Regions from separate parts of the Homo sapiens genome. Here region 1 is linked to region 2. Evidence: fine-mapped expression QTL. A gene starts in region 2. The other region holds a variant in brackets. All regions are shown on one strand. Distances are between the middles of the regions.

What was found.
Region 1: its variant is fine-mapped to the expression of CCN2 in whole blood (TOPMed, PIP above 0.99).

The regions. Positions count from the first base shown.
Region 1 is chr6:132,126,863-132,142,546 of GRCh38, forward strand. LINC01013 (long intergenic non-protein coding RNA 1013) reads left to right here and starts at 5,710. Exons shown (of 6, transcript NR_187602.1): 1 at 5,710-5,849; 2 at 7,410-7,621. RefSeq lists enhancers at 5,075-6,274, 6,043-6,544. The variant T/C (reference allele first, on the strand shown) is at 6,607.
Region 2 is chr6:131,945,792-131,961,475 of GRCh38, forward strand. CCN2 (cellular communication network factor 2) reads right to left here and starts at 5,581. Exons shown (of 5, transcript NM_001901.4): 1 at 5,316-5,581; 2 at 4,979-5,201; 3 at 4,501-4,752; 4 at 4,158-4,369; 5 at 2,385-3,769. The coding sequence starts at 5,381. The coding sequence ends at 3,473. The region is part of intron 2 of CCN2-AS1 (CCN2 antisense RNA 1); the gene reads left to right.

The sequences.
Region 1 (15,684 bases), 180 kb after region 2:
ATCCATATGGTTGCTTTTATGTGTTTGATTATGGGGCCTTTCTGCCAAATCCAATCCCTTCATTCCTTACCTCCCCACACCTACTGCCAAATGGTGGTCAGTTAGTATATTTTGCCCATAACTTGGATATGGCTATCAAAACTAATTAATTTGCTTGACCATTTGGCTACCCAAGTTTCTATCTCAGCTCTCTTCCGCATTATCCACCCCAAACTATCTCAGCTCTTTTCCCCATTATCTTTCCAAAACTGTGCCAGGTTTGACAAACTTATTAACCAAAAAGAAAATACTTAATTTTAAAAAATAACTGCATGTCTAGATTGGCCTCACTGGTCTTGGCTGGAGCGTTGGAGAAATTTTATCTTCTCCTTTCTCCACAGAGTTACTTTCATTTAAAAAAACTAAGCTCTTCTCCAGACCATTTCCTCCAGTAACTCCATTTTGACTTTTGGAAGTCAAGCAGGTTGAGCTCTCATTCTCCTCTAATCCTCTCACACACTGTTCCAGCCAATAAATCTTGATTTCAGTTTGGGTTCTCCTCATTCACCATGGGAATGCAATTGGGTGAAAAAAAACCATTTCTGATGCCTTTTTACTTGGATTTTTTTTTTCTCTAAAGTGGGTCCTCATCCCAATTCAGTTCTCTCTCTTTCTCTCTTCTTTAGACAGGTTTCCATGTGCAAGGCTCCAGCCCAGACCAATGACACTGCTTATCTATGATTGTCAAAATGCCAGCTATCACCAGTGAAGAACTCCAGGTGGCACAAATACTATGACCTGTCTCCTAACAGATCTCAGGAGGTATTCCATAGACATCGGATATCTGTGTCTTATGTCTCCAGTTTAATTGTAAATCCCCAAAGGACAGAACTGAGCCTGCTTCTTTGGTTTTCAAACAAAATGTCACATCCAGTGACATTTTGAAAATAAAACTTTGGCTCATAAATTTTAGAGCCAAGCATAGGATGCTGACAAGGGCCCTACCCAGCCAATGGACAGCAGCTTGGTGACTTCTGATCTCATTTTTACTTAGAAAAATTTCTCTAAAATCAATTTAGAGAGTTATGATCAGCACTAAAAAATAAATAAAATATAAGCAAAGGGAAAATATCCCAGTGAATTACCCTTCATAAGGATGAGGATTGCTTTGGGAAATGTTTTAGTATATGTGCACTGTGTCATAACCAGCATTTTGAAAACCATTGTGCAGCAGTGTAAGGACTCCATAGATGCTTGGTTTGGGGTCATTTAAATTGTCAAAGGAAGAGTGGAGGTAAAGATTTGTAAAGGAGCCTCTCTGTAAAATCATGAGGGTCCTTTTGTGGCTCCTGATCTTTGATCCATCAGTCTCAGAATGAGGTGTAAGCAAGCCATTAGGTTGCTGCATGAGTCTGGTTGGGCACCTCCTTCCCTCATTTTGAACAGTGAGATTAAGCCACAAACTCTCTGAGGAGGTTCAAATGCTGATGTAAGTCTCAGAGTGAACACAACCTATAAACACTACTATAAGTTTCAATCATGTAAATGGGAAGTTAATTATGATTGTCATAAACTGCTAGGTTCAACAACCTTCAATTTATTTTTTTAAATGTTAATGGAGTGCTTCCCCTGTGCCAGGATTGTGTAGCCTGAAAATACAGAGTTGAATGAGGTACAGGTTACAACTTAGAAGAGCTTATGATCTAATACAGGAGTTGGCAAACTACAGCCTGTGGGCCAAATCTGGCCTACAATCTGTTTGCATAAATAAAGTTTTATTGGAATTCAGCCAGGCCCATTGGTGTATGGATTGTCTATGGTTGATTTTGCACAGTCACGCACAGTTGCAACAGAGACCATATGGTCCACAAAGCCTAAATATTTACTGCTTGAACCCTTACAAAAAAAGTTTGCCAATCTTATCTAATGTTGTTTAAAATACATTTTTTTCTGTGAGATTTTCATATGCAAAAGTGACAACTATATCAAGAGCAATGGAATATTTTCCTTACTTTCATGACTGAACAACATAGATCACTAGTCTGATGGAGCAGCTTTAAGAAGATTCAAGAAGTGGCTCCAAAGAAAAACACTGTGATATTAATGAAATATTTCATGTTTTTCTGCCTTACACATACATAATTACCCTGACTGGAGTATGGAGGTCTGACTGCAAAGTTCCAATATTATCACACAAAAAAATTATAGGGCTAGCTAAATCAGCTGAATATTAGATCAGAGATCACCAAGGAGCTACTCATTGGCTGAGTGTGGCCCGTTGCCATCATACACTTGTCCTCAAATCTTGACTCTAAAATTTTTGAGACAAAATATTTGAAATTAACTCAATTTCACGTTAAAATAGAGTTTCCCATTTCTCTTGAAAAATCACAATTGAACAGCAGTAGGCCTCCATTTCTGCTTGAAGGTGACCCACTGGAGAAGCAGTTTCCACATTAGGACCAATGGGGTGTCCATGCTCCAGATTACTCCTATTTCTACCATTCCCCAAAGTGTTCTTGACTCAACATTAAGCATTGCTGGCCATTTAAAACATGCATAGGTTGTTATTTTCCTCAGTAAAGAACTTTCTCAGTAAGCGTTCTCTTTTAAAAGTAGGATAAATAAAGATGAAACAAGAAGATTATGTTTAAAAAATGAATTTTCTGGCCAGGTGCGGTGGCTCATGCCTGTAATCTCAGCTCTTTGGGAAGCCAAGGCGGGTGGATCACGAGGTCAGGAGTTCGAGACCAGCCTGGCCAAGATGGTGAAACCCCGTCTCTACTAAAAAGACAAAAATTAACCGGGCGTAGTGGTGGACACCTGTAATCCCAGATACTCAGGAGGCTGAGGCAGAGAATTTCTTGAACCCAGGAGGCAGAGGTTGCAGTGAGCTGAGATCACACCACTGCACTCCAGCCTGGGTGACAGAGTGAGACTATGTTTCAAAAAAAAAAAAAGAATTTTCTTACATTCAGCAGGCCCTTGGTATCAGCAGGGTGGGGATAAGGGTGAGGTTTGAGGAAGGGATTGGTTCTAAGACACAGATTGTTCAAGTTCCTTGTATAAATGTAGTATTTGCATGTAAGGTACACGCATCCTCCCTATATTTTAAATCGCCTCTAGATTACTTATAATACCTAATACAATGTAAATGGCATGTAAATGGCTATCTTATTTTTTTAATTGTATTATTTTTTATTGTTGTATTATTGTTTTCAAAAATATTTTCAATGCAAGGTTAATTGAATCTGCTAGTGTGGAACTGCGGATATGGAGAACTGACTGTATTTAATATGCAAGCAAAGAGTATGCAATCTGCAGCTATTTTGCTCACTTATGTTCTTTCCTAGACCATGTAGATACGATAGTTTGAGATTAGTGTCTTAGACCCATAAAGAAAAGCATCTGGACAAATATTTGGATTTATTTTAGTGGTTGAAACACACGATTGAAGAAGCTTGGAGACCACAGTCTTGGTAACCCAGAGGGGATCTGGGAGCTCATCACATCCAAACCTTCATTTTAGCAATAAAGCATCTGAAGCTTCCCCCACATCCTAGGAGAAATGATCTGGTCAAAAGCACAGTGTGTCAGCAGCCAAGGCCAACTCTCTAATTCCCACTCCAGGGGTGTTGAGAAAATGAGACCAATAGAGTGATAAAGAATTCCCCTGAAATAGCTGGGCAACTTGTAGGAACCTGTCAAACTTCTTCCTCCAGCGTAGCACAAATTTTAATTGGTGGTACCTAGAACAGTTTCCATTTTTGTGAAAAATGGCATCTGATCAATTTCCTCACTTCCAGTAGAGGCCGCCTGCTGTGGCTGCATTTCTACTGGCCAGTTCTCATTGGCCAGCATCTGCCTTCTTTTCCTGTGGAAATAGAACTTACGGGCAGGAGAAAGGACATATTTGGTAATGTTACGCTCCTCAGCTTCCTGCTCCGGCTGTCTCAGCTGCAAAATGTCAAGGGAAAAAATATCCCTCCAACTTGGAAGGAATTCCAGACAGACCCTGATGCCTGCAAATTTGTCAGAGGGAGCCAAGTCCAGAAAAGCAGAACATGAAGAAGGTTCATTATTTGACTTCAAGAGACATTCAAATAATCAGACACTCTGGTATTTATGATTTTCCCCATTTCAGATGGTCTGTAGTTCACAACATTCCCCTCCCTTTACCGCTGATTCTGAGCTTCCTTTTACGTTAAACCTCAACAGTTATAAAAAGACTCTCACATTACTTGTAAGCCACAGGCACTACTAGGAGACACTGTGTTCACACAGGGCTGTTTAGGGCTGGGGAAGGGCAGCTCTTTTTGATTATTAGTCTGGGGAGGCCAGGCCAGGAAGTCAGGCTCACTTCACCCTGACCACGCCACCGGAGTCCTCATGTAGCTCCCAAGTCTGTGCCAACGCTTCCTGCCACTCACAGCACCAAATGCGATGATCTTTACTAAAAAGCACTTATTTCCGTTGGCTTTCTTATTCATTTAGGCTTTTCTTTTCCTGGGGGGCAGTGGCGGGTGGAATAGCCAGTTTATCCTGACTTCCACATTGTGAATATTCCACCAGGACTGTTTATAAAGTTGAGTTTGGGGGGATCTTCATCTTTCTCCTGGCATTCAATGCATTTTCTGTCTCCTTTAGAACTGTTGCCACATGCTGGCAAAAAGATAAGGAAACTGAATTTGTAATCCAAACCTCGTTAAATTGCTGCACACACATTTTCCCTTCTACTTCTTGCTGTCTGTTTCTAAATGCCATGCTATCTGTTTGTACTCAGTCACCTGAAATCCTTATTTGGGTTCTCCAACAGGCACGAAGGCATCCAAATATCAATTTTAGTAATGGGTGGAAATGCCCACATGAGGAGTGGGATGTTCAGTCTTAACATGTGGTCTCTATGAATAAGGGTCTTCATTTTTTCTTTTCCTAAACGGTCCAGCTCCTCTACGCTGGTTTTGCTCCTCAACAGTCCAAGGTTTGTGCTACTTCCATGGTGATCATCTGTTAGGTCATAAACATTAGATTGTGGCATCACTGAATGAGTCAGTTGGGAGGAAGCTGGGCTGGAAATACAGCTGAGAGCCTCTGTTGACAGATGGATGCCTTCTTAATCACAGCCTGTGTGGGTAAAGGGAAAGCCTTGCCTGGCCAACCCCTCCCACTCCCACCCCCACCTCCTGCATTGATTCACAAACCTGGACTGCTCTGGAGGAGGCTGGGAAAGTCCATCCCCAGGGAATACCACTTTTTTCCTCTTCTGTGCCTCTCACAGGACACCCACATGACTAGGAGGAGGCAGAAAGTGAATAGGGAGCTCTTATTACTTTTTGAGTGTCAGCAAGGTAAACCTGCTTTCATTTGCTTTTCCAAATCCTAAACGTTTCCCTCTTAAACTGTTGATATTGTTAGCATTGTTCGTTTCTCAGTGTGTGTCCATCTGCCTTGTCTGTAAAATGGGCATAATAAGAGCTCACCTTTCAGAAAGCAGTGGGTAGGGCTAGATGGTATAATTATGTTCCCTTTCATCAGTTTTCCCTATCTCTACTAAGCACCAGGTGCTATTGGAAAAATTACCTTTTTATCAGATTTTTAAAATACAGTTGCCTGAGCACATATTTAATTTTAGAAGAAATAGTTTAATAGTTCTAAATGTGGGGTTTCAGAGAGCCCTATGTCAAGAGCCGCTGTACACTAGGTTGCTAGGAGACTGGACAGCCAAAGAAACAATGCCCTTTCCTGTGACCACTATCAAGAACTGCTCAGGATTCCTGCCAGCCTGTTAGCCTTTATCGTTCAGTCATTTTAGACCTCAAAAAGAACATTCCATCAAGGGATCAGGTTCTATCATCTCACTGGAATGCAATGTAAGACCCCAGAAACTCTAGTACAAACAAATTTACTATGGCTCAGATTAATAATAGATAGCACTTGAATGTGTGCCCCAGTTGTGCTCCCTCTCTGCTAAGGATAGGACAAATGAAAATAAATTGCAAATTCAGCAGGGAGATTCAGACCAAACATAAGGAAGAACTTCTGCCATTAAGGACATAGAAGTTGTGAAGTTTGCCCCTTGGGAAGAGTTGTTTAGATTAGCCTGAAAGAGCGTATTTGAAGGATGAAGATGCAGCCCTCACTGGCAATGGAGGACAAGGTGATATGATTTCCTAGGTTTTCTTCAAGACCCAAGATTCTCCTAGTTGTGGAAAAGTGACTCTGTGCATTACTCACCACTATTAAGATTGTTATTCATGATCAGGCCTGAGTGAAAGCCCGGCTACTCTTACATAACAAAGGCAGATTCTCAGTGTTGGAAGATAACTGAGGAGCCATTCATTTCATCCCTCTTCTTTCACCAGTGAAAAATCGGAGACACAAAGCATTCATTGCCACATGGCCAGCAGAAGAGCTGGGCCTAGGACCAGGACCCCTCAGGCTCTCTGTGCTGTGTGCTGTACTACACCATATTTTCACTAATAATATAGGTCTATTTAAAACATAGCTTCATCTCTGGACCACTGCAGATTTTACATTCTAAAAATGCTTTTATAAGAATTCTGTTTATGACATGAGCAGCACTGAAGCAGAAATCTGAGGAACTCTGGGGATTGGTGTGGCTAAAGA[T/C]CACAATTTACAAGAATAGTTTAGGCAAAGCACAAAAGAGGAAATGTTATTTATATGAGCTCATTTCTACTCACCAAAACATTTAAAAATTAAACTCAAGACCCAACAACTTTTTCCTTTTCTTAGCCCAACATGAGAGGCTTACACATGTACCCCTTTTCCCCAAACTTGTGAACTTGTCTGATATGTAGTCTCAAGTTTATAAGCTTCCCTTAGAAAAAGTTCTATTTCATTTCTACAAATCATACTTCTCTCATTTTATAATCCTTGAAATGGATAGTGCTGCCTCATCTTAGATGAGGCATTCAACAGTTTTAATTTCTAAGTTATAAATTATTATTTCTTCTTCTTTTTTAAACGTCTTAGAGACAAATCTGTCTATTTCACATAGGAAGCCAGTTGAGTTGTTCCTCACGCTTTCCCCACGAAGCTGCATCTGAAGGACTTCCTCACCCCCCCGCTGTGATCACAAGTTATGCCTCACAGATTCATTTCCTTATGAATGACTTCAGGAAGCCAGCATTTTTAATAAATAGGAAGTAAATTATATTTAATGACTAAATTCTCACCTAAAGTTGATACTAATATTACAATAACTCTCTTGTGCCCTATTTTGGTGTTTTAAACTTCTTTGCTGTACATTTAAGAAAATCAGAATTTCAGTAGACTCCTCGTGCAGTCTGAGGAGGCAGTTTCCTATCTGGTTTGACTTAAGGGGCTGCAGAAGACATTCTTATCCCACATATTTCTTCTGCTGATCAGTCAGCAACTGAAATTCCAACTAATGGATTCCATTCTTCCAGTTAAGACATCATCTCCAGAAAACTGTGCTAGTTGGCATCCAGCAGTGCCCAAGTATTATTTAACCCACTAGAACCTGTGACTGCATCAGCTTTATATCCTGGACCTCAGCCTGGAACAAAGGAGAGCTACACTTGGATACTAAACACAAGTGGTCTGGATAGATTATGCTGGGAAAAGAAGCCTGGAGCAGGCAGTACAGTGGGAGAACAAGGTAAGAATCAGGTAAAAGTTGCTATCACTGAATCACAGCTTTCTCTTTACTTGTTTTGGGGGACTGTATTTATATTACTTGTCTCTCAAGCATCCTTAATATATTTATTTACTTTCTCAAAAGTCTTTACTGTCATTAATCTATTTGGATTTTCAAACTGAGTCAGAAGCATACATTATGATATCATTAACTTGAGGATATGCTGGAACCAAAATGTCCTTCTAGAATAAATGTGTATTGGAGTAAGTAAAAAACTTAAGGGGAAAAACAGGAGAGCTACTACTCAACTTTTATGGTGGTTTACATGTGTTAGGTGAGGCAAAAAAGAGGTAGAACATAAAAGAAAAGGAAATTTAGGTCATTTTTTAGGCTAAGAAAAATCAAGTTGGGGGAATTCAAGGACTGGAAACACCAGTACAAAGCTAAAGATACACTTTAATTCCAGAGATGGTGTCTTAGAAAATATAGTAGTCATTATAGAGACAGGCTGTTGAGTGATGACAATGCTAGGGCCATAGGAATGTTCCTGAAGAAATCAACATCCTTTATCTTACTATCGTTGGAGAGGTAGACTCTGATTGTATGGCACTTTTTTTTGATACTACTAGAAAATTATGCAAGACATCTCACAGAACAGAATCAGACTTGCAGCCCATGATAAAACAGAAGACTGTCTGTAACATCAAAGAAATACAGAAGATTTTATGGCTTGCTGTTTGTTTACCTATAAGGGAAATGCCCGAATGCCTAAAGTATATATTACATGTAGTTTGGCTGCACTTGAGGAAAAACTTGGATTTCTAACTTTTATCAAACAAAGAACGCATTGTCCCTGGTCCATATTGATTGGTGAAACACAGAAATTTTCCATTTATTATTCACTTTATTATTGCATTTATTTATTTTTGCCTACCATTTCTTTTTAAATTTCATTACACCTGTTTTCATGCATGCAGTGAAATCACTCCTTATACTTGGGGGAAAATGACAAGAAACGACAGCCACGGAATCTTCCTCTGGATATGAGAACAAAAATAGCTGTCAGAATAAATAGTGGCCACACCCATGTCACTTCTTCATGAGGTGACTTGGTGACTTCACAAGATAGGCCCCACCCCACCCATATGAAATGAGCACCATCTGGGCTGACCTCCTCTTTCGGGGTCTGTAATTACTGTACAAAGATGCAGGTGCGTCTATGAAAGCGAACTTTGTCGAGATCTCAGTGACACACTCTGCTTTTCCAAATTGCCTCAATTGGCAGTGAATATTAGAAAGAGTCATGGAATGTCTCTGGAAAGATACATAGGAGAACTAGTGACATTGGATCCTTGTGGGTAGGGAGACACTGTGTAAGTGCATCAAAGAGGCTGACTTTTCACTGTGCACACTCCTTCAGACCACTGGAAATTCGGAATTGTATACGGTGTGCATGTATTACCTCCTTAAAACTAGCTAGCTACCTATCTACCTACCTACCTACCCACCCACCTACCTTCCTACCTGGCTAATTCATTAGCTAAGTAAATTAATAAGGTGTTAAAAAAAAAGAAAAGCCAAATAACTGGAAACACTGAGATCTTCCTCTGTTGCTATTTAGCTAACTGTTCAATTTAACTCTTAAATAAGTTATTTCCTCCGAGTTTTTTTTTCTTTTCTTCCACAGAAACTCTGCACCTAAGCAACACTGGTTTCCTTGTTCTTCCCCAAACATGCCAGGCACATCCCAGCCTCAGCTTCTTTGCAAAAACAATTTCCAATGCCTGGAAAAATCTTGTTTTTGTTATCTCCATGGCTCGCATTTTGCTTAGTTTAAGTCTTGACTCAAATATCACTTTCTCAATAAGGCCTACCTTGACTGTCCTATTTAAAATTGCAAACTTAACACCCCAGAATTCCTCATATCCATTTTATCTTTCATAGTAATGATCTTCTTCTTTTTTTTTTTTTTTTTGAGATGGAGTTTTGCTCTTGTCGCCCAGTCTGGAGTGCAATGGCATGATCTTGGTTCACCGCAATCTCTGCCCCCAGGTTCAAGGGATTCTCCTGCCTCAGCCACCTGAGTAGTTGGGATTACAGGCATGTGCCACCATGCCTGGGTAATTTTGTATTTTTAGGTGAGATGGGGTTTCTCCATGTTGGTCAGGCTGGTCTCAAACTCCTGACCTCAGGTGATCCACCCGCCTCGGCCTCCCAAAGTGCTGGGATTACAGGCAAGCCACTGCACCCAGCCATAATGATCTTCTTTTTAAAGTACTATATAAGCATCTTAGTACTTAACATCTTTATTGTCTATATCAAACTCTAAAACCAAGCTCCATGAAGGCAAGGATTTGTCTTCAAATCTTTTGCTCTCTGTTACTTCCCCCAGCATCTAAGTACTGCTTAGCACTTACAGCTTTTCAAGAAATAATTGCTGAGTAAATAAAAGAACTAATGAGTTTTGCTTTCTAAATTTTTTATTCTTGATTGAATATTATTAAATGATTTGAGACTGACACATCTAGTTTTTAATTTGATGATTATTGTTAAGTTTTACAAAAACAGACTTCAATGTATATTTTGAAAATGAATTCAAGAATAGCATTTTCTACAAATGGCCAAGAGACATATGAAAAGATGTTCAACATCACTAGTCATCAGAGAAATGCAAATGAAAACCACAATGAATCTCACACCCATTAGAATGGCTGTTATCCAAAAAGCAAAAGATAAAAAGTGTTGGCGAGGATCTGGAGAGAAGAGAACTCTTGTACACTGTTAGGGGGCATGTAAATGGGTGCAGCTGCTTCGGCCGCTATGCAAAACAGCATGGAGGCTCCTCAATAAATTAAAAATAGAACTATCATATGATTCAGCAATCCCACTTCTGTTATTGATCCAAAAGAATTGAAAGCAAGATCTCTAAAAGGTAATTGAACTCTCACGTTCACTGTGGCATTATTCACAATAGCCAAGACATGTAATCAATCTAAATGTCCATCGACTGATGAATGGATAAAGAAATGTGATATATATATACAATGGAATATTATTTAACCTTAGAAAAGAAGTAATACTGCCTTTGGTGACAACATGGATGAACCTGGAAGACATCATGCTAGTGAAACAAGCCAGGCACAGAAAGACAAATATTGTATGATTTAAGTTATATGTGGAATCTAAAATAGTCAAACTCATAGTAATAGAGAATAGAATGATGGTTACCGGGAGTTGGAGGGGGTGGTGAGAGAAATGGGAAGTTATTGCTCCAAGTGCACAAAGTTTCTGTTATATACAATGAACAAGCCCTGGAGATCTACTGTATAGTGTAGTGTCTATAGTTACAAGTACTGTATTATATACTTAAAAATTTGGTAAGAGGATAGATCTTATGTTAAGTGTTCTTATCACAAATAATAAAGAGGGTGAGAGAAAACTTTCGGAGACAATGGATAAGTTTATTGCATAGATTGTGGTGATGATTTCACAGATGTGTACTTATCTCCAAACTAAAGTTGTATACATTCAATATGTGCTGTTATTTTTTGTCAGTTATACCTTTAAAAAGTGGGGTTTTTAAGTGACCTTCTCTAGTTGTGAAGTACACCTTCTTCCACTTGACAACTTGTCTGCCAAGCCCATATCCTAATCTTTGTTAACAGATCCTTTACATCTAGATTATTGTTATTAAGATATCATTTTCTGTTGATCAATTTTTTACTTTGGAGGATATCTTTAAGATAATCATTCTCTTTTGAGCAAATGTATCATCATTGTTTGAATGTATCCCTGTTTACAAGCTTTCAACACTCATCACCTGAAACAGGTTTCATTTCATCAACTAGAGTAGTCAACTAGAGACTTCAAACAGGAGGAGACTTAAACATAGGGAATTAGGCACCAAAAAAGTCCATTTGAGGAGTGAGGGCCAGACAAAGCCACTGTAACCTTTGAGGAATTCAGGAAGTTGCAAGAATCATAAGAAACTACCCTATGACTCTTGATCTCAGCCACAGCTGTGGCACTGGGGCAGGTTTTCAGCAAATTTCCCAGAAGCTGCTGTAAAATCCCGTATCTGTTGTCTGTTCCATTCCCCACATTGCCCACTACTGCTAAAAAGGAAATGACAGCTTCTGCTTCTCCCCTTTCTGTAGAATTCATCTTTCCCAACGTGCTCTAAATTATAAACGAGCAAAGGATTTCCATTTTCAAACCCCACAGGTTCCTCCATGTACAGATTTCCATAAGCCTCAAACCTGAAAGAAATAGAAAGCAAATTGAATTCCTCCTCAAAAGTCTACCAGTTTGTTTTGGTGGTCACTGCTACTAAGTTCTACTGATGTGCACATTCTGTAGGTAAACCCCAGAGATGAGCACATCATGTTCATGTCTCTCTTCCTTGATGACCATGGCATGCTCATCCAGATTGTCTATTTCTACTCCCAACACAGTAAATATCATGGGAGGCAATCCTTAAGTTACAGAACATAATTCACATAATATTCCTGTACCATAGGTTAAGAAAATGAGCACATATTGTTCTTTTAATTTAATAATTGTCCCGTATTGGCCAGTCATGGTGGCTCATGCCTGTAATCTCAGCACTTTGGGAGCCCAAGGTGGGCAGATCACTTGAGCCCAGGAGTTCAAGACCAGCCTGGGCAACATGGCAAAACCCTGTCTACCCAAAAATCACACACGAAAAATTGCCAGGCATGGTGGTGCACGCCTGTGGTCCCAGCTACTCAGGAGGATGAAGTGGGAGGATTGCTTGGGCCTGGGAAGTCAAGACTGTAGTGAGCCATGATTGCACCACTGCACTCCAGTCTGGGTGACAGAGAGATCCTGTCTCAAAATAATAATAATAATAATAATAATAATAATAATAATCCATTATATTTCTTATAAGTCCCCTCTCTACCTCAGTTGCCTTGTCTATAAGAGGAGGATACAGTAATACTTATTTCATAAGATTATTGTGAGAATTACATGGAACTTCATCTGCCTATCTATCTACCTAGCTATGTATGTATGTATGTATGATGTATGTATGTATGTATGTATGTATCTATCTATCTATCTATCTATCTAGAGTTTGGAAGAGTGCCTGGACCATTGCAAATGCATAGTACAAGATAGCTACTATTATTACTATTGCCGTTGTCATCATAATCATCCCTCTTTTCTGTAAAAAGTAATGGGTTTATATGTCAGATAAATATGTTGAACTTAATTCTCTTTATGTGTCCCTGAACCTATCTAAGCCTTTTCCATGGTCTCTTCATGTGAAAAGTGTGGTTCTTCCCTGCTTAAATATGAACTTGGCCATGTGACATGTTTTGATCAATAGCATATGAGCAGAAGTGACAATATGCCAGTTCTAAGCCTAGGCCTTAAAAGCTCTGTAAGTGTATTTCCACTTGCACCTTTGCATTTGTGTCACTGACATGAGAAGATTCCTTTTAGGTCGCTCCTGCCCCTTCAGCCTGAGCCCCAGAATGAATACACATAGGCTAGAGATGCATTGGTCAATTCACAGAATCACAGTGAGAAAAAAAAGCCACCAGCCAAGTCCAACCTAGATCATCTGAACCCCATCCTTCCCACATAGGTGTAAGCAATAAGTAATTGCTGTTTAAAGCCCCCTGTGCTTTGGGGTGGTTTGTTATGCAGCAGTGGTGAACTAATACACTTAATTTCAGATGCATCTACCAGTGACTGAGTCAAATGATGACACCTGCTCTTCAGCCAAGTCATATTGCATGTTTTGCCCAAATGCTGGCCATGACTCTTTGTGAACATTGCACAGAGTAGTGCTGCAAGAACTTGAGTGGGTTTGGGGAGAGGCAAGGATCGGTGCCAGTTTCTGCCTTCTGTGTTTTTGCCGCCTTCAACAGTCTGCCAGCTGGTGCAGCTGCACCTTTTGGACAAATGATATGCTATCCTGGGCATTAGCCTAAATGGTACCACACATGCAAAGAGCCACAGCTGCTATTTGTTGTGCTTCTTGCTATTCTTGGCTCTGTTGCATTGCCTAAGGGTGGCATAGATTTCTACACATGAAGCGTGGCTTTCCAAGATTCACAGATAGAACTTTGATCAATACAGCTACTAATGATGATGACTGTGCATGGGAAAATAGGGTAGAATCATTTCTAAATAGCCTAAGATTGTTTTGGAGTAAGAAGAATGTAAATTAATTAATCCTATAAACATGCATGCTATAGCATTGTATGGTTTGTCCTTCCAGGAAAAAGCTAAAACCTCACCTATATTGTTAATATATATATATTTTTTACATTATTTAAATGAGTGAATTTTTGCTTCCTTTGTTGGTTTTGCATAAAGATATTCATATTAGCATAATGTAGATAAATCTCATGAGTTAATTATTCACTAAATCAAATTTAAAATTAGTTTCCATTTCTAAGTCAAAGGTTGAGTTGTTCCACATGTGTTGTGTGGAATAATTGAAAATCATTATTAATTAGTACATGCTGCTGGTGACTGAGATCCCTCTCAAAAATTTCTGAGCTTGGTTTGAAACCTAAAAATAAGAAAATAAGAATAAACATAAGTTCAATCTACAATCCATAGAAACGACATTGTATTTCTAGTCCTTTTAAAACTTAACCAAAAGTCTTTATTGATTCACCACATTTGCCAGTACAATGCAGATGGGAAAATGAATAAAGGAAGAAAAAAATTTTATATATGGCCCAGCTACAGGGCCATACTTTAAGAGAATGGAACATAACCCTGCTTCAGAGCACTTTTAATGAAAATACAGACAAATAAATATATAGTGTAGTTGTTCTCGACCCTGGTTGCAAATTAAGTACATGGAGAGCTTTCCAAAATTATAGATGCTGAGCTCTACCCAAGATTTCTAATTTAGTTGGTCCTGTGTGGGACCAAGGAATTGGTACTTTATGGAAGCTCCCAAGGGATTCCAATGTGTGGAGTTAGATACAGTAGTATTAAGATATTTTGAAGTCATCATAATTCCAAGAGGATGCTAACATGGTTACAATGACTACTTTCAGATTTCTTCAGAGGGGGTTCATAGAGGAATTGACTTAAAAGTAGAGCCTTAAAGGAAAGAAGCTACATCATGGAATGACGTGGAAAAGTATTTTTCTTTTTAAATCAGTTACATAATTTGGGTTTTCTCAAGTTTTGCCATTTTAATCAGCAGAACTTAGATTAATTAATTTGTGAGATGCTTATCTTTGCCTATTAATTTCCTCTATTGATATTTTTACTTGCTATCAATTGCGATTGCTTTTTCATATCTGTCTTCTTTTGTAAAGTGATGACTTTAGTCAGAAGTGTGCTGGAGCAGTTTGCAGAGCCTTGCAAAATTGATGGTGCCTATCTATTTCCAGCTCTATGTTCATCAATGCCAGATCGGCAGACTGAAATCAGCCGTGATAAAAATGTTTACACTATGGAAATTGGCAAATACTAAAAATCATCAGATACTCTCTCACCCCAGACATGATCAATCATTCAATAGTACACAACTGATTTCAGTGGAAGAGAGTTATGGTACATAAATGATTTTTAGTTCTTCATGTTAGATGTCTTAAAATTATAAGTCTCAACTTTCAAGTACCTATTAATCTCAAAAAAATTAAACCTATATTTTACAAGAAAGCCTCTTCTGTATTTTTTATTATATTTCCTTTTGAATCCCCCGCCCCATTTCACTCTTACCACCTAAAACAGAAACTCCCACATCTTCTATGCTCAGAGGAGATTTACTTGTGTTAGCTTAAGAATCATTTCATGTTTTCTCATGCCTGCCTTCATACCACCCCATACCACAGTTTTCAGGTTTTAATTTAAGCTCCACAGCAGCCCTTTTCTGTTCGATGAGAAAAGATAACCAAGAAAATAAATTAGGAGTCTTATGATTGACCCTAGTTTTTTTGTTATTCAAGGAAACCCAAAATGAAGCAAAATAACAAAAAATTGCCAAGGAAAACATTTTCAGCCATTTCAATTACTGTTTTAATTGGCTGGGTCTGGCTTCCAGATTATCCTGTAATCTCTACAAGAATGTTATTTGGAAAAAG
Region 2 (15,684 bases):
CCCAATCCCCTAGTAACCATCATTCTACTCTCTACTTCTATGAGGTCAACCTTTTAGATTCCACATATGAGTGAGATAGTGCTATATTTCTCTTTCTGTAACCTGGCTTATTTCACTTAACATAATGTACTCTAGGTTCATCCATGTTGCCACAAATGACAGGATTCCCTTCTTTTTTAATGAATAGTACTCCATTGTGTATATATACCTCATCTTCTTTATCCATCCATCTGTTGATGGACACTTAGGTTGATGCTGTAACTTAGCTATTGTGGATACTGCTGCAATGAACATGGAGGTGCAGATATCTTTTCAACATACTGACTTCTTTTTCATTGAGTGTATACCCAGTAATGGGATTGCTATATCATATAGTAATTGTATTCTTAATTTTTTATGGAACTTTCTGTTTTTCATAATGGCCGTACTAATTTACATTCCTGCCAACAATGCACAGGGTTTTTTTTCCTCCACATCCTTGCTGACAGTTTTGTTATCTTTTGTTTTTTTGATAGTAGCCATTTTAACAGGTGTGAAGTGATAGCTCATTGTGGTTTTGATTTGCATTTCCCTGATGGTTAGTAATGTTGAACATTTTTTCATATACTTGTTGGCCATTTGTGTGTCTTCTTTTGAGAAACATCTGTCTGGTGACCTGCTCAATTTAGATTCCACTTCCAGGAGTATGAGGATCTTCTCCTGGGAGGCAGCCCTGGCTTGTAAGCTTTGTTGGAGTGCTAGGCCAAACCCCTACTAGATTCAACAGCTGCTGTCAGCCTGGCCTTCTATATATCTAGTGACTACCTGCTGGCTGTTTGAGAGCTCTCGTGTTCTCAGAAGCATCAGATACCTTGTTGTTTCTCTGCTTTTCTCACACATGTGCTGACACGGTGCAGATCTTACGGTGGTTGATGATTTGGCACCCCCTACCTCCGATATTTGGGGGGTGAAAGTGTGCATTGCCATCTAATTTTTGTAGAAACATTGCCTGTGGGATTTTTGTTTTGCAATCTAGTGACTCTTTTTTTTTTCTTTAATGTGGGTATTTGGAAAATGTGAAATCTATGCTTTTCCTGCTGCTTCTATATTTCCAGAATGCTCTAATTCAGTAGTCAGTCTCGTTTATCATGCATGGCCCTTCATCTTTGCAGTTAGGAATTAATTGACAGAAAGGAAGTGTGAACTAACAGTGTACTCTGTGTGTGTGCCTATGTGTATGTGTACATGCGCATTTATTTGGGGAGGTGGGGTGCTGCTCCTGGCAGCACTGCTATATACAGATGTGGGTGTATCCTTAAAGCCCAGAGTTTTGACCATAAATTTTCACATTCTGAACACGGGAAGTTTTCCCTTTGGTTTGTGGTGTGGACAGTTGTTTGTAGAGCTAGTCTTTATTTTCAGGTGTATTTTTGTCTGTCCAAATGACATTGGCACTACAACGTTGCTAATTACCTTGGGAAAAGTTAGTCTGTCTGCAATTTTTTTTTCCCCTAGAATCCTCAGCTATCCTCATGTGGAGAAGATTCTAGTTGCCTTTGGTGTATTGCTTTTGTTTACCATTCACTTTGGTTCACTCTTTAGTAAAAACCTACCTGGGTAGGTACAATATTGTTTCCACATGAGGCTTCTTGAACAATTCCATTTTCTCATGTATAAACCACTTGGTAAGGTAGGATGCATTAATCTGGAAGTCTGATAAAGCTAAAGACTTGGGCAAATGGAGGAATTACTTTCAAAACAAATTTCTATTAATGTTAATGAATGGAAGATTTGCTCATCCTCCCTTTTCTATTTATGCCATCTGTTTGTCATTGGTTATCATGGCAACCAAAAACGGAATTATACAAAACAAGACTTATGAAATAGCTCCATTTAAATGAGGATTTCATTTCATAATTTTCAGATTTAACAGTAAGGTAATGAAGTTCAGAAACAGACCTAGAGCATAAAATTTTTAAAAAATGTAAACATTTTCCACGTGCAAGGCACATAGACTAGTTTGTGATGTGAAGGGTTGGAAACTAACCTATAACGGCCAGAGAGGTACAAATGCCAAAAGGACCAAGTGTAATACAACAGGGTTAATGGAGACTGAAGTAATCTAGAGAGAATTGAATTTAAAGTGTCTATAAAGTTCTGTGAAGATAACAAAAAAAATGGCTGTATAGTCAATGTGGTGTGTATGCCTGCAAGTCTGTGATACTTGATTCAGTGTGAAGTATGTTTACATAAAAATTCTATGGAATAATCAATTTATTAATGTATAGAATAATTAAAGATATTTAGAAAATTATTGGTGAATTATCTTATGATTAATAAGAACTTCCTATTTATGCTCAAGAAAACTCAGAAATGTTTAGAAGGATAAATGAATAACCAAGCCCTTTATAGAAAAAATATACACTTTATTTTCAACTAGAAAGGTGCAAACATGTAACTTTTGGTCACACTCTCAACAAATAAACTGTCCGAAAAACAGTCATATCAAAGTAGAAACAAATGCTTCCAGGTGAAAAAACTGATCAGCTATATAGAGTCACTCAGTTTTTAATAAAGGCCATTTGTTCATTAAAAGTGAGGCTACCACATTTCCTACCTAGAAATCAGCCTGCCAAGGACACTGATGCCTCCCCTTTGCAAACAATCTGTTTTGACGGACTGTCATTCTATCTGAGCAGAATTTCCATATAAGTATCCATTTCATGCTTTGAACGATCAGACAAGCTTTACATTCTACCTATGGTGTTCAGAAATTGAGGCTAACATTGAAATATCAAAGCATTAAAAACAAAAATAAAAAGGCACAAACAACTTTAAATTAACTTAGATAACTGTACATATATATATATATACACACACACACACACACACAATATTTACAATATAAATTTTAAAAAATCTGGCTTGTTACAGGCAAATTCACTTGCCACAAGCTGTCCAGTCTAATCGACAGGATTCCGATTCCTGAACAGTGTCATTCGAATCAGAATGTCAGAGCTGAGTCTGCTGTTCTGACTTAAGGAACAACTTGACTCAGTCTCTTGATGGCTGGAGAATGCACATCCTAGCTGTCACTGGGGCTACAGGCAGGTCAGTGAGCACGCTAAAATTTTCCTTCTCAATTACACTTCAAATAGCAGGCATATTACTCGTATAAGATGCTATCTGATGATACTAACCTTTCTGCTGGTACCCTCCCACTGCTCCTAAAGCCACACCTTAATATACATTCTGGTGCTGTGTACTAATGTAGTTCCACTGTCAAGTCTTAACATTCTTCAAACCAGTGTCTGGGGTTGATAGACTATTTGTTTGACATGGCACAATGTTTTGAATTGGGTGGGAATCTTTTCCCCCAGTTAGAAAAACAGATTTAAATAACTTGTGCTACTGAAATCATTTTTACGGAAAAATGAGATGTGAATCAGTTCAAGTTCCAGTCTAATGAGTTAATGTCTCTCACTCTCTGGCTTCATGCCATGTCTCCGTACATCTTCCTGTAGTACAGCGATTCAAAGATGTCATTGTCTCCGGGACAGTTGTAATGGCAGGCACAGGTCTTGATGAACATCATGTTCTTCTTCATGACCTCGCCGTCAGGGCACTTGAACTCCACCGGCAGGGTGGTGGTTCTGTGGGGGGTGCAGCATCGGCCGTCGGTACATACTCCACAGAATTTAGCTCGGTATGTCTTCATGCTGGTGCAGCCAGAAAGCTCAAACTTGATAGGCTTGGAGATTTTGGGAGTACGGATGCACTTTTTGCCCTTCTAAGGAAGACAAGGGAAAAGAGAGAGGAAAAAAAAAAATCAGCGACTCTACAAGAGGAGTGGCTTTCTTCAACCCTCTGTGTTTTAGTCTTCTGTTGTCTGACTTCTGTTTATATTTTGAGGGGAGGAAGTTTGAGTCTCATTTGCTATGTCCAAAAATAGCCAGAGCCTCTCTTGGAATGTCTTGAATTAACTAACCCTGTGGAAGATTTCGTAGTGGAAAACTGGTGGTTGCTATTACACAAGCTCTCATTCCAGCAAAACAGCTCAATGGTTAGATAGTTTTGGAGATAACGGGCTTATACTAACAAGCGTGGCAAGAGCCCTAAGTTGGGTCCTATCCACTGTTTTTCCTGTGAAAAATAGTTAATAGGAGCAGAACATGTACCTTAATGTTCTCTTCCAGGTCAGCTTCGCAAGGCCTGACCATGCACAGGCGGCTCTGCTTCTCTAGCCTGCAGGAGGCGTTGTCATTGGTAACCCGGGTGGAGATGCCCATCCCACAGGTCTTGGAACAGGCGCTCCACTCTGTGGTCTGGACCAGGCAGTTGGCTCTAATCATAGTTGGGTCTGGGCCAAACGTGTCTTCCAGTCGGTAAGCTGCGAGAGCAGAGCACACAAACACCATGTAAAACGCCTGGATAAGGTATTTCCCCCGTTCGGTCGGCACAGTTAGGACTCCCTCCCTGGGAGAGAATCACGACCCTGACTTAGAGGAAGACTCGACTCACCCGCGAGGGCAGGCCCAACCACGGTTTGGTCCTTGGGCTCGTCACACACCCACTCCTCGCAGCATTTCCCGGGCAGCTTGACCCTCCTCGGGAAGGGGCAGTCAGGGCTGGGCAGACGAACGTCCATGCTGCACAGGGGCATGCAGCCCACCGCCCCGTCCAGGCACGTGCACTGGTACTTGCAGCTGCTCTGGAAGGACTCTCCGCTGCGGTACACCGTACCACCGAAGATGCAGGGAGCACCATCTTTGGCTGGAGAAGAGGAAGGGAAGAGAGGGGTGGGGGATGCAGAGGTCAGGCATTGGGGCACTCTCACATCCAGAGCGTCAGGGATGCGAGTTGGGATCTGGGCTGCAGGGGGCGGGCTGGCAGCAGCTGGAGAAAGAAACTCAGTCCGAGCGGTTTCTTTTTCCAGCGGGCGGGTGGGCGTGAGGGAGGAGGCGGCCGGACACCTAGCGGTGGGGGCTGCGGGTCTTACCGGTGCACACGCCGATCTTGCGGTTGGCCGGGGAGCCGAAGTGACAGAATAGGCCCTTGTGCGGGTCGCATGGGTCGCGCTCGGTGCACAGCTCGCCCAGCTGCTTGGCGCAGACGCGGCAGCAGCCGCAGCCGTCCAGCACGAGGCTCACGCCCGCCGGGCAGCGCGGCGCCGGCTCGTCCGGGCACCGGCACGGCCCGCTGCAGTTCTGGCCGACGGCCGGCTGCAGGGAGGACAGGGCGGTCAGCGGCGCTCGGTCGGCGCGCACGCCCTCCCCGGCCGGCCCCGAGTCCCTCCCTGGCAGCCGCCGGCCGCAGCGGGGGCTCCCGGCGCTTACCCGGCTGCAGAGGGCGAGGAGGACCACGAAGGCGACGCGGACGGGGCCCATACTGGCGGCGGTCATGGTTGGCACTGCGGGCGGAGCGGAGGGCGCGGTGGCGGCGAGCGGGGAGCGGCGGGGCCTGGAGCGCTGGCGGTGGTCGGAGGTGGGGACCGGGACGCGCCGGGCTGTCGTCTCGGGGCTGTCGGCCGGGGCGGCTGCCGTCGAGCTGGAGGGTGGAGTCGCACTGGCTGTCTCCTCTCAGCGGGGAAGAGTTGTTGTGTGAGTTTGGGGCGGGCGGCCCGAGGCTTTTATACGCTCCGGGCGGCCGCGGCTCGCCAATGAGCTGAATGGAGTCCTACACAAACAGGGACATTCCTCGCATTCCTCCCCACCTTCCTGCCTCATCAACTCACACCGGATTGATCCTGACCCCTTGACACTCAGCATTCCTCCGTCTGAAAAAGCTGGCACACTCCAGCTCACAGAAAAAAAAAAAAAGGAAAAAAAAAAGCGCAGTATTTCCAGCACCAAATAGAATTTTTTTTTCCCTATCCTCTTCGCACCACTCCTGATTCATATCATTTATAAACACACTGGCAATTATTTCTTATTTCTTTTTCGAATAAGTTTGCCCTGTTCTGTCCACTGACATACATCCTTTTTAGGAAGTAGGTAGCTGAAGAGGCAAACAGCAGGAATTCCTAAAAAATTCGAAAAGGTTTCTCCCCCCCAACCCTTAGCAATGATTTGCGTTTTAGAGGCTATAGGCTCTTGAAACTCTCCAAAGAGTAGAAAAGGAGTGAGTTGCTTTTAACCATTTGAAATCCTCAAGATGCCTACCTGTAAAACCCTGAATTCTATATTTGAGATTTGATCATTTGTCACTTGAGGTAACGGTTTTGGGACAAGAAAGAGAACAAAGACGCGTGTGACTCAGGATGCAGTCTCCTGGGGCAGATTTCCAAAACTCTTGCTTAGTTTTCTCTTAATATATGTAGGAGTTTTATATAGGCAAGGACAAGGGAGGAGTGGCCATCAATGTTTCCAGAAAAAGGGATCCATTGTTCTATCAGAGCAAATGATTCTGTGTTGGGTAGGTAGGGGCTCTGGGTGTCAGGGTGGGAACACTGGGATGCAAAGGGGGTTCACCTAGGAGCATTTAAACACAGCTTCACTAGGGTCTTTGAGAAATGAGTGCATTTTCTTATATTAAAACCTATAATCTTCAAATGTGGATTGGATTTGGTTTGTCTTGTTAAAATAAGAAGTCTGATTCCATTACAAGAGCAGTGTACCCTGTTGTATCTGGATATAAACTAAGATTGACAGTGAATAATATATTTTTAGTGACTCCCCACACATCTATGAATAGTGATTGTGACTTCTCATTACCCAAGGAACATGCAGCCTGAGGGAGTGAGGTCAGGACAAGGAAAGAATAGGCTTTATTCTCCCTGGGTGTGTGCAGATGTTGAATATGGCCAATAAACCTAAGCATATCTCCATTTCTTAATATAGTGCTACTTAGCTTCACTAAAGACCCAACTAATTCACTGTGCTTTCATTTGGAATCTATGTTGTTTAGTGGCTTTTTTGTTAATACCTCCAGTTCCCATTTTATATAAAGAGAGTGATTCTAGGGCCATACCATTTTTGTATTCTGTAATGCCGCATCATTTGACATTGGTGTTACCAATGAGTAGATTCCTTTAAGTTGTTGATGCTTCAGAGCATGGGTTCAAGATAAGCATATCTGTTTGTGGTGCAAAGATCGGCTTTAGAAACAATGCATTATAGATTTATCATTTGAAAACAGCCTGTTTAAACTGATCAAATTTTTAAAGTTTCAGTACAGTCTGTTGAAAAATAGCCAAGAAGAAATATAACCACTCCAACTTCAGCATAGAGCATATCATCTGTGCACGATTACCTCGTTAAGCCAGCCACATGTTATAGAGTGTAGTTGCATGTCAATAGTGTGAATGGCCAGCAAAGGGGTGGGGGTGCCCTCTGAAGCTCAGGAAGAATTTTCGTCATTGTTATTTAATGTCCTTTCCAAGCATTCCTCAAAAAGAAGAGGCCTAAGAGTTCCTATTTAAAGAAGGAACATTCCAAGTTAACTTAATAGCCACATGTGTATTAAAGGCAACTTGGCCCTCAACTTTTTCTTCCCTTGTGGATGATTTTAAAAGTCCAAAATATGTGGGAAGCCACAGTGAAACCTTTCAAGACCTAAACCCCCAATTACATCTACCTCTAATGGTTGGAAAGGTGTGGTGGCTGGGGAAGGGTAGGGATGTGCAGTGCGAGTCTCACCTAAGGTGGGATGTGGGCTTGGTGGTGAGCTCTCCTAGCTTGCAGAGTGAGGTAGGTGGGAGAAGGGTTGGGGAATTTCTGAATCCTCAGGAGAGTCTGAAAGCTACCACCATCTTCATGCCTGCAGCAGGGAGACTCATTCATGGAGGGGATAAATTGTTGTACTGGGTTATAGTTAGATGGCCTAGGTTGTATTCTTGGAACTGCCTTTCGCAGATCTCAGGGAAGTCACACGTAGGAGCCATATTCCCATTTCTGTTTAAAAAATGAAAGTAATCATAATTTTTTTAATTTAATAGGGTTCAGTGAGGGCTGAGTAGATGAAAATTCCAGGGAATTGGTGCTTTATTTTTTTCAGATTTTCTTGATTTTTTTTCAATCTCTGTGTATAATAAGTATATTACCATTCTGCTCTGTTGTTAAAAATGTCAAAAGAAAGAATTTGGTTTTACTATAAAATTCTCATAGTCCCTCGAAGTCTCAAAAAAATCTATAGTCAGTTCCAAATAGATGATTTTAATGTTGCTTAAGAGGAAATAAGCATATTGAAATATATAGAACATATGAAATCTCAGGAAAGAAAAAGTTTCTGTGCATTATCAGGTTAGATTGAGGCTTTATGATCAAAACTCTTTTTGAAGGAGTTAAAAGACTATTATTAAGAGAGTGACACAGAGACAGACAGACACATACATGCACACACACCCAGAGAGAGAGAGAATGAGAGAAGACACCCAAGACATTCACAGACTCAGAAGTATGTTTTTATTGTGATATGGACCATCAAATGCCAGGAAACTCAAAGGGAAAGGCTGATACTCCATCCATAATTCATGCCATGGGATCTGAATTCTTGCACTATTATCAATGACTCAGCAAATGTTTGTGTGTGCCTGGGCGGTAAAGTGGGAAATAGTGGCTTCTTATAACTTCATCCAACTTTGACTTACCCCAGCCCCTTTGATTGACAGCAGGTCAGAGTTGGGAGAAAAAGATCTTTGAATTTGTGTGCAAAATGGTTAAGATGCACTAATTTTGACTTGTAAGCAAGTATTTATCTAGCAAATGCTTTTTAGAGAGCATTTTTTCCTCGTGGTAAAATGAGGAATTAACTAAGCTGGCCACTGAGTCCTGTTTACCAAGCTATATAAGGTATGTGTGTGTGTCTACTAGGGCATCATTTGTACTGGTCGTTTGGTTAAGTCTTGTAAGATGTTCAGCTGTGGATGTATTACATTCCTTCCCTTAAGTTTTTTGTTGTTTTTTCCTCCCTAAAAAAAAAAGGTTTCTTGATCAGGTATCAGACACAGAGAAAACCTGGCAGGACTACAGAAAAGTGGCCAGAGTTGGAGTGTTTGTGTACTTAAAGAAGGAATCTTGCACATTTTCAACTTTTAGTTGTAGACATTTTCTTATAAGAGCAAGTAGGAGTCAGTGCCAGCCCTCAAAGCGGAAATCAAAGCTCCCAGGGAAACATGCCGGAGGAATGTGACTCAGAGCCAAGACCCATACGCAATGCATACACGGAGCTGTCAGACTTATAGGAGGAAGTCTGGCCGTATATGGGCATCTGGACAGTGAGCGATTTGTCCTTATGGTGGGTCAGGGGGAGGTTTCTGATGTTTCTAGCGTGCCTCAAATTCAATCATGTAAATTAATTCTACAAAAAAAAATGGTATCCCAGAAGCCTTTTGTAAAATAGTAATAAATATTATTCTGAAATCTTCAGGGACCCTGGTTTGGCTGACATGACCTCCTGTTTGCTTAAGATGAAGGTTAAGGAGAGGGCGTACTTGCTGGGAGTTCATGGCGGGGAAGATAAACGCGGATGTTTACTATCTAAATTACATTCATTACCTTCATGCCTTTTCCTCCTTATAATTAGTTCTCTGACTTTCTTAGGATATTTTCTAATGCAAAGGTATTTGTCAGAAGGCAGTCAAGGCCGTTGCATGTGGTTTGTGTTTTATGTTTGCCTGTTCCTCGCTTGTCCATAGAGTTGGAGGCCAGAGGGGTGAGAAAGGAAGTTTTGTTTTGTAAGATGATATCCCTTCAACTTACTGTTTGTTTCACTTATTTTGTTAATTTGACTCTTTTTTTTTTTAAAGTAGTTTACTTAGAATCCTGTGTTGCCTCTAGTCAGCTTTTGTTCATCTAAGATAGTGTCAGATGAGGATGCTGCTAGGTAGGAATGAGCCTGGTGGTCTCTTACACTGTCCTCGACAGGTTAGAATCTCAAATTCATCACCGTTTAGCAACCAGGAGTATTTACAGCCCCTTGCTTCATCAGGGCTAAATGTGAAGCATCCCCTTGGTGATACTTAAGGTGATATTTAAGTGAGTGGGAATGAAAAACAGAGGAAATAAGCATTTCTTAAGATGTGTGATTTGGGGACACCCAATCAATAGGTTTAGGAGGAAGAGAGAATTGGGACTAGCTATCTTATCTCAAATAATAGAAGTAAGTGAAAGGATAAATATTTTGAAAGGACTAGTGTGAAATATACATGAATGTATTCCTAGGGATTCTGCTGCGGGGTGGGAAAGGGGTGCAGATTAAGCCAGACCCCATCATTCATCCCTGGAAATGTGCTCCCACCTCTAGCCAAGAGGCCTGAGGTCCCTTCTCACAACTTCAAACTCCCTGGAATACCATTAGGTGGAGCCTAGGGGACTGGCTAGGAGGTGAAGGTGTGAGCTCCATACCTGCCATTTGCTTGCCAGTGACCTCAGGGAAGACACCTACTCTCTCTGAGCCTGAAATTTCCCACCTGTTCACAGTTAATGTGCAGCTCAAGGAGACAATATTTATGAAAGCACTTTCATAAAGGTATTAGAGTTTTAAAATTGCCCTTCTCTTCCATTCTTCAGTGGCTCTCAAAACTAAGCCCAACTCAGATTGACTGTAAAAGCCTGTCACAGTTTGATTTTATAACAGTGTCCAGCTCTGCATGGGTTTTAGAGTGTTAAAACTAGGTGAGAGCTCAGAGAAAATCAAATCCTACCTCTTATTTATTTATTTATTTTATTAGATTAGATATTCAGGATTGATAGAGACATTTAACAAATGAAAACTTTTTTTCTTTTTGAAATAGGGTCTGGCTCTGTCTCCCAGGGTGGAATGTAGTGCCATGATCTTGGCTCACTGCAACCTCTGCCTCCTGGGCTCAAGTGATCTTCCTGCCTCAGCCTCCCAAGTAGCTGGGATAGCTGGGACTACAGGTGTGCACCACCATATCCAGCTAATTAAAAGAATTTTTTTTTTTTTTTTTGTAGAGATGGGGTTTTGCCATGTTGCCCAGGCTGGTCTCGAACTCCTGAGCTCAAGAGATCAGCCCATCTCAGCCTCCCAAAGTGCTGGGATTACAGGCGTAAGCCCCTGCGCCGGGCCACAGATGAAACTTTTAAATTTGTCTTATGCTTCTTATATACCTTATATTGTCACTTCGATGATAATGTGGGCATGCATTTTAATCATAGTTTTCAGGATACCTAAAACAAAATTCTATGCTCAGCTTATTTTTGTCACCTGATAGCATCTACTCCCTTCATCTTCATTATATGTTCATAGTTTTCATTGATTTGTGGAGGATGGGGAGAGTTAGGGAGTTCCTAACAGTCTTCCTTTCTTCAGTGAAAAATGTGTAACTTATCACTAATAAGAATATGGTATGCAAATGATAAAGAAACAACCAAAAAATTATGATTGCTTGTGTCCATCACATTTTCTTTAGATTTGTATTTCTTGGAAACCAAGGTGGTATTTTACTTAATGTGATGCTACAGACTTTAACACTTTACATATATTTGGGTTGACAGTTTTCTTTCATTTCATTTTGTAATGTGAACTGTGCTACCATGATGGTGACAAGTTTTCAAATTAAAAGCAAACTTGGTAGCCAGTATGTTCTAGAATGCTAAAAACCAAGTTGTTTGAATCATCCAAAGAGTTTCTAAACTATTTTCCTGTGTGTAAATCTTTAAATAACCATGCCTATGGGAATCATATATTAAAATCTGAGCACCTGGATAAGGCTTTTTGAGAAGGTATCTTATCTTCTAAGTCAGAACTTTCACCACATATGAAGAAAAACCACATTCTATTTAAAATCCTGACATCATCAGATTTGAAGTAAAAGTCAACTAATGCATTGTTTAATTTGATGTTAGAATGCACGATGCCAATTTTATCTGAACAATTTAGCGGGAACGCTTCTTAGAACTCTATCTGGGTGCCTAAAATAGATACTCAAAATTTTGACTGCATTCTCTTTTGTTTATGTAGAAATTTTTAATTTACAAAGCCCTTTCACGGTTACCATCTTACTTCATTATCATAACAATCGCATTAGGTATTATTCTACCCATATTGCAGGTGAGGAAATTGAGGTCCAATAATGCTAACATACACAAGCCTGGTTAGAGGTGGAGAAGGGACAAGTGAATTTAAATTCAGTTCTTCTAAAGAGAACACCCCTTGCCTTTCCTTCCAAACTTCACGGCTTCTTTTCTTTCCATTCTATATATGGTGATCTCTAAACACTGTGTGTCCTTAAGATAGTTATCTCAGATCTTAAACTCTTAAAGGACACACCCTAGAAGGCATATAAACACCTGTGGGCTAACTGGCAGTCACTATTGTATTGTGCCGTGGTCTGAGATAAACATGAAGTAGAAAGAAAATGTTTACTGACCTGTATTAGTAGAGAAATTTGGGCTTAGATTTGCTTTTTTTTTTTTTTTTTAACAATTAAGATTTTGGTGATGTTGCTATGTAGACAGATATGTTCTTCTTATCCGCTAACTAACTGATGCAGCTAAAAAAGGAAAAAATGAATAAGATGATGGGTATGCTTTGGGAGGCTTAATATCAGGGTGTGCTCTGCTCTGATGTCAGCCTCAGCCCACACTGAAAGCGTTCAGTCTAACCCTATGCAGTCTTGTTTCGGCTGAGACTGGGACCAACCATAGACATCATGAAGGTCTTCTTGAATAATTGTATCATTCACTGATAAGCTACCCTTAGGGATAAATATCATGACAGAGTCTGGGACAAACCATCAGCACTGAAGCAATGTCTACTATCAACATAGGTTTTTCACGAGTATCCCCTAATAAACATGTCCTGCCATGTTATTGATATTTATTTTATGAACTTGCCTTAACTGAAAATGCACTTTCCTCAAACTGAATATGCTTTGCCTTTCAGGTTTACAGCTTTCTCCCTCTCTCCTTTAACCATGGAAGGATTTGATTGGAATCATAACTAGTTTCATGTTGTTAATGGAATGCGATTTGTCATAACTACACATGGCAGAGAGAGAGGGTTGTCTAGGAATGGTGGGGTTATGATGAGGGAATTTTCTTATTGACCTGCACATGTGTGTGAAAGTTAACAACTACAGGATTACATTTCATATAACCATTGACTTGCTCATGTCTGGAAATAATATCACTATTAAGCTATTTCTCATATACAGATGATAAAAACTTATTTTGTCCAATTGAATCTTTTGTGGCATTTTCATCATTTCTAACGTCTCTATGTTGGTTCTTCTTGATTGTGGTTTTCCCTGCTGTTTCCGTATTTGACTGATTGCTGAGGCTCCTACTATTTGCTTTCAGCTCAGAAGGTAAGCAAGCAAACTTCCAGTCCAGTTTCAGATGGACTTTGAACCAATGTTGCTTTGCAGTAGGGCTGAGCACTGCCACAGTCAAATGTATCCTCCCTGGTTGGCTTTGATCGCTTTCGAGGCAGGCCCATCCCTCATGGGTCAAGCTGGTTTTTCCTTGTCAGCTTCTGAAGCCTCCCCGAGAGGGGGGACCCACAGTGTGGTGTTACCACTTTTCTCTCATGTGTTCTCATTTTACACACTGAAGCCTGGCCTTCATCTAAAGTGAACTCGAGAAGTCCAAACTCCTGTATTTCTCATGCATCATATCCAACTTTCCAAGAAGGGAAAATGACCTTATGTTGAGCAGAAACGGCCATCTGGAAGCCATTTTGTCTACCGTAAGCGCCAAGGACGAGGAGAATTCTTAGACCCTGCATGTGAGGGCAGGAGGCCACAAGGCAGAAGCCACTCACCAAATGTATTTATGTCATAGCTACATCACCTGGCATCCTTTACTAAAGTGTTGCAGGGGGTCATTTTACTTGGACTTCCTTATTTTTCCTGGCATTGCTGGTGGTAGGGAAATACTCCTGTTGTACTGTTTCTGGCAGCCCAATATTCCACCAAGCTAGGCCTAGAAAAGCAAAGGTGCAGTGAGGTGGGGAAGACACTAGTACATCATTTAAAAAAAAAAAACTTTGGTGTTTATGCTTTGTTTTCAAGATCGTAAGAATAAAACCTGCCAAAATAAACTTGGCTCATATTTAATTGATTAAACAAGATTTTTAACAATTGTAGCTTGACATTCTAGTGTGAAATTTTGTCACTTAAAGTAAGCTAATTTTATAGTTTAAAGCATTTCATAAAATTAGCCACCATTTTGGATTGAGTGAGTCCTAATTTTTATCTTGATTTAGAATGTTTTAGAAATAGATATATCATCAAATTGATCTGAATATAAAATTTGCTGTACTTTGTATTTCTCTTTTTCACCATTTCAGGAGAGATTTTTTTTCTCTATTTCTCTATTTAATAATATGATTAAATGTTAATATGGCTTAATGCATGACATTAAGCAAACTACTTAATCTCTCTAAGTCTCTGCTTCTGTTAACCTGGAGATAATAATGGTACCCACTTCATAAGATTTCATAGAATTGTTGGGACATTTTGCAAGGGTTAAATACCAAAAAATCCTAAAACATCTAGAACAATGCTTGTCAGAGACTAAACACTCAATAAATGTTCATTAAAGTAAAATAAAACTGTCCTTTTAGTTCATCTCTGAATATTTTTAGATACTAAATTTCTGCCTTAGCACATTTACTACGTATTAGCACTTAGCTCAGTAGTTTTCACGGTCATGTATTATGCAGATTACACTTAAAAAAAAAGAATGTCATGACAGTTTGTATTGACAGCCTTTTTCTAGCAAGAAACATACCGTTATTTTGAACTTGTGAATGATTTATGAATTGTGATTCTGTCTTCAGGATCCTGTTTTTTTCTGTTTTGTTTTTGTTTTTGTCATCAAATTGCCACAGGGGGGAGTATAAGTTCTTGAAAGCAGCAAGAAATACAGTTTAAGTAATTTGGTACCAATTATCATTATTATTAGAAACGTCCATATCTGAAACATCTAAACAGATTAGATTAATACCTATGTGAAAGTAGAAATATTTATAGTAAAAAATTGGGCACCGTTTAATATAGGATTTATTAATTTTGTGATAGTTGCAAAAGCTGTGTCTGGAAAATGTCCCCATGGGTGAATGTGTGGGCGTGCACATGCATGTGGGTAATATTAATGCTGTAGGAGAAGGGAGAAAATGTAAGTTTCTAGTTTTTGCCATTAAAGTCATGACGTGAAAGAGAGAGGGAGAGAGAGAAAGAAAGTGAGAAAGTGCTAGTCTGTGTAAAATGACCATGAAAGGGCTTGGATACAATGATGTCATACAGCCTCACAATATGGATAATACTGAACCCTTTCTGTACATATGGGGGCATTTAAGCTTATTAAGTTCAATAACTAGAGGAGACAATTCCAAAATAGAGAGAGCTGTGCAAGTGGAAAATGAAATGTCCCTTTGAATAATACAATTGCATTTAATAGCTACAAAAGCTGTGACCTAATATTATAACACTGACAGTCAAAAACATGGTTATTTTCTCTGCCTCTTTGAAGAAAAAGAAATACAACAAAAGTTCCTAGAGAAACCAAATGGACGTTCTTAAAAGTTGGGGGGTTTGATCATGGTACCAACCTGAACTTTCCCTTTGGGAGTGGATCATCTTTGCAGATAATTGGTCAGCTTTCCTATAATATATACTGTATATATGTATGTGTGTATATATAATGTGTGTGTATAGTATCTCATATATATATATATATATATATTTTTTCGGGTTTTCACGCTCAAAGTCCTGCCACCATCGTAAGTTACCCCAATATC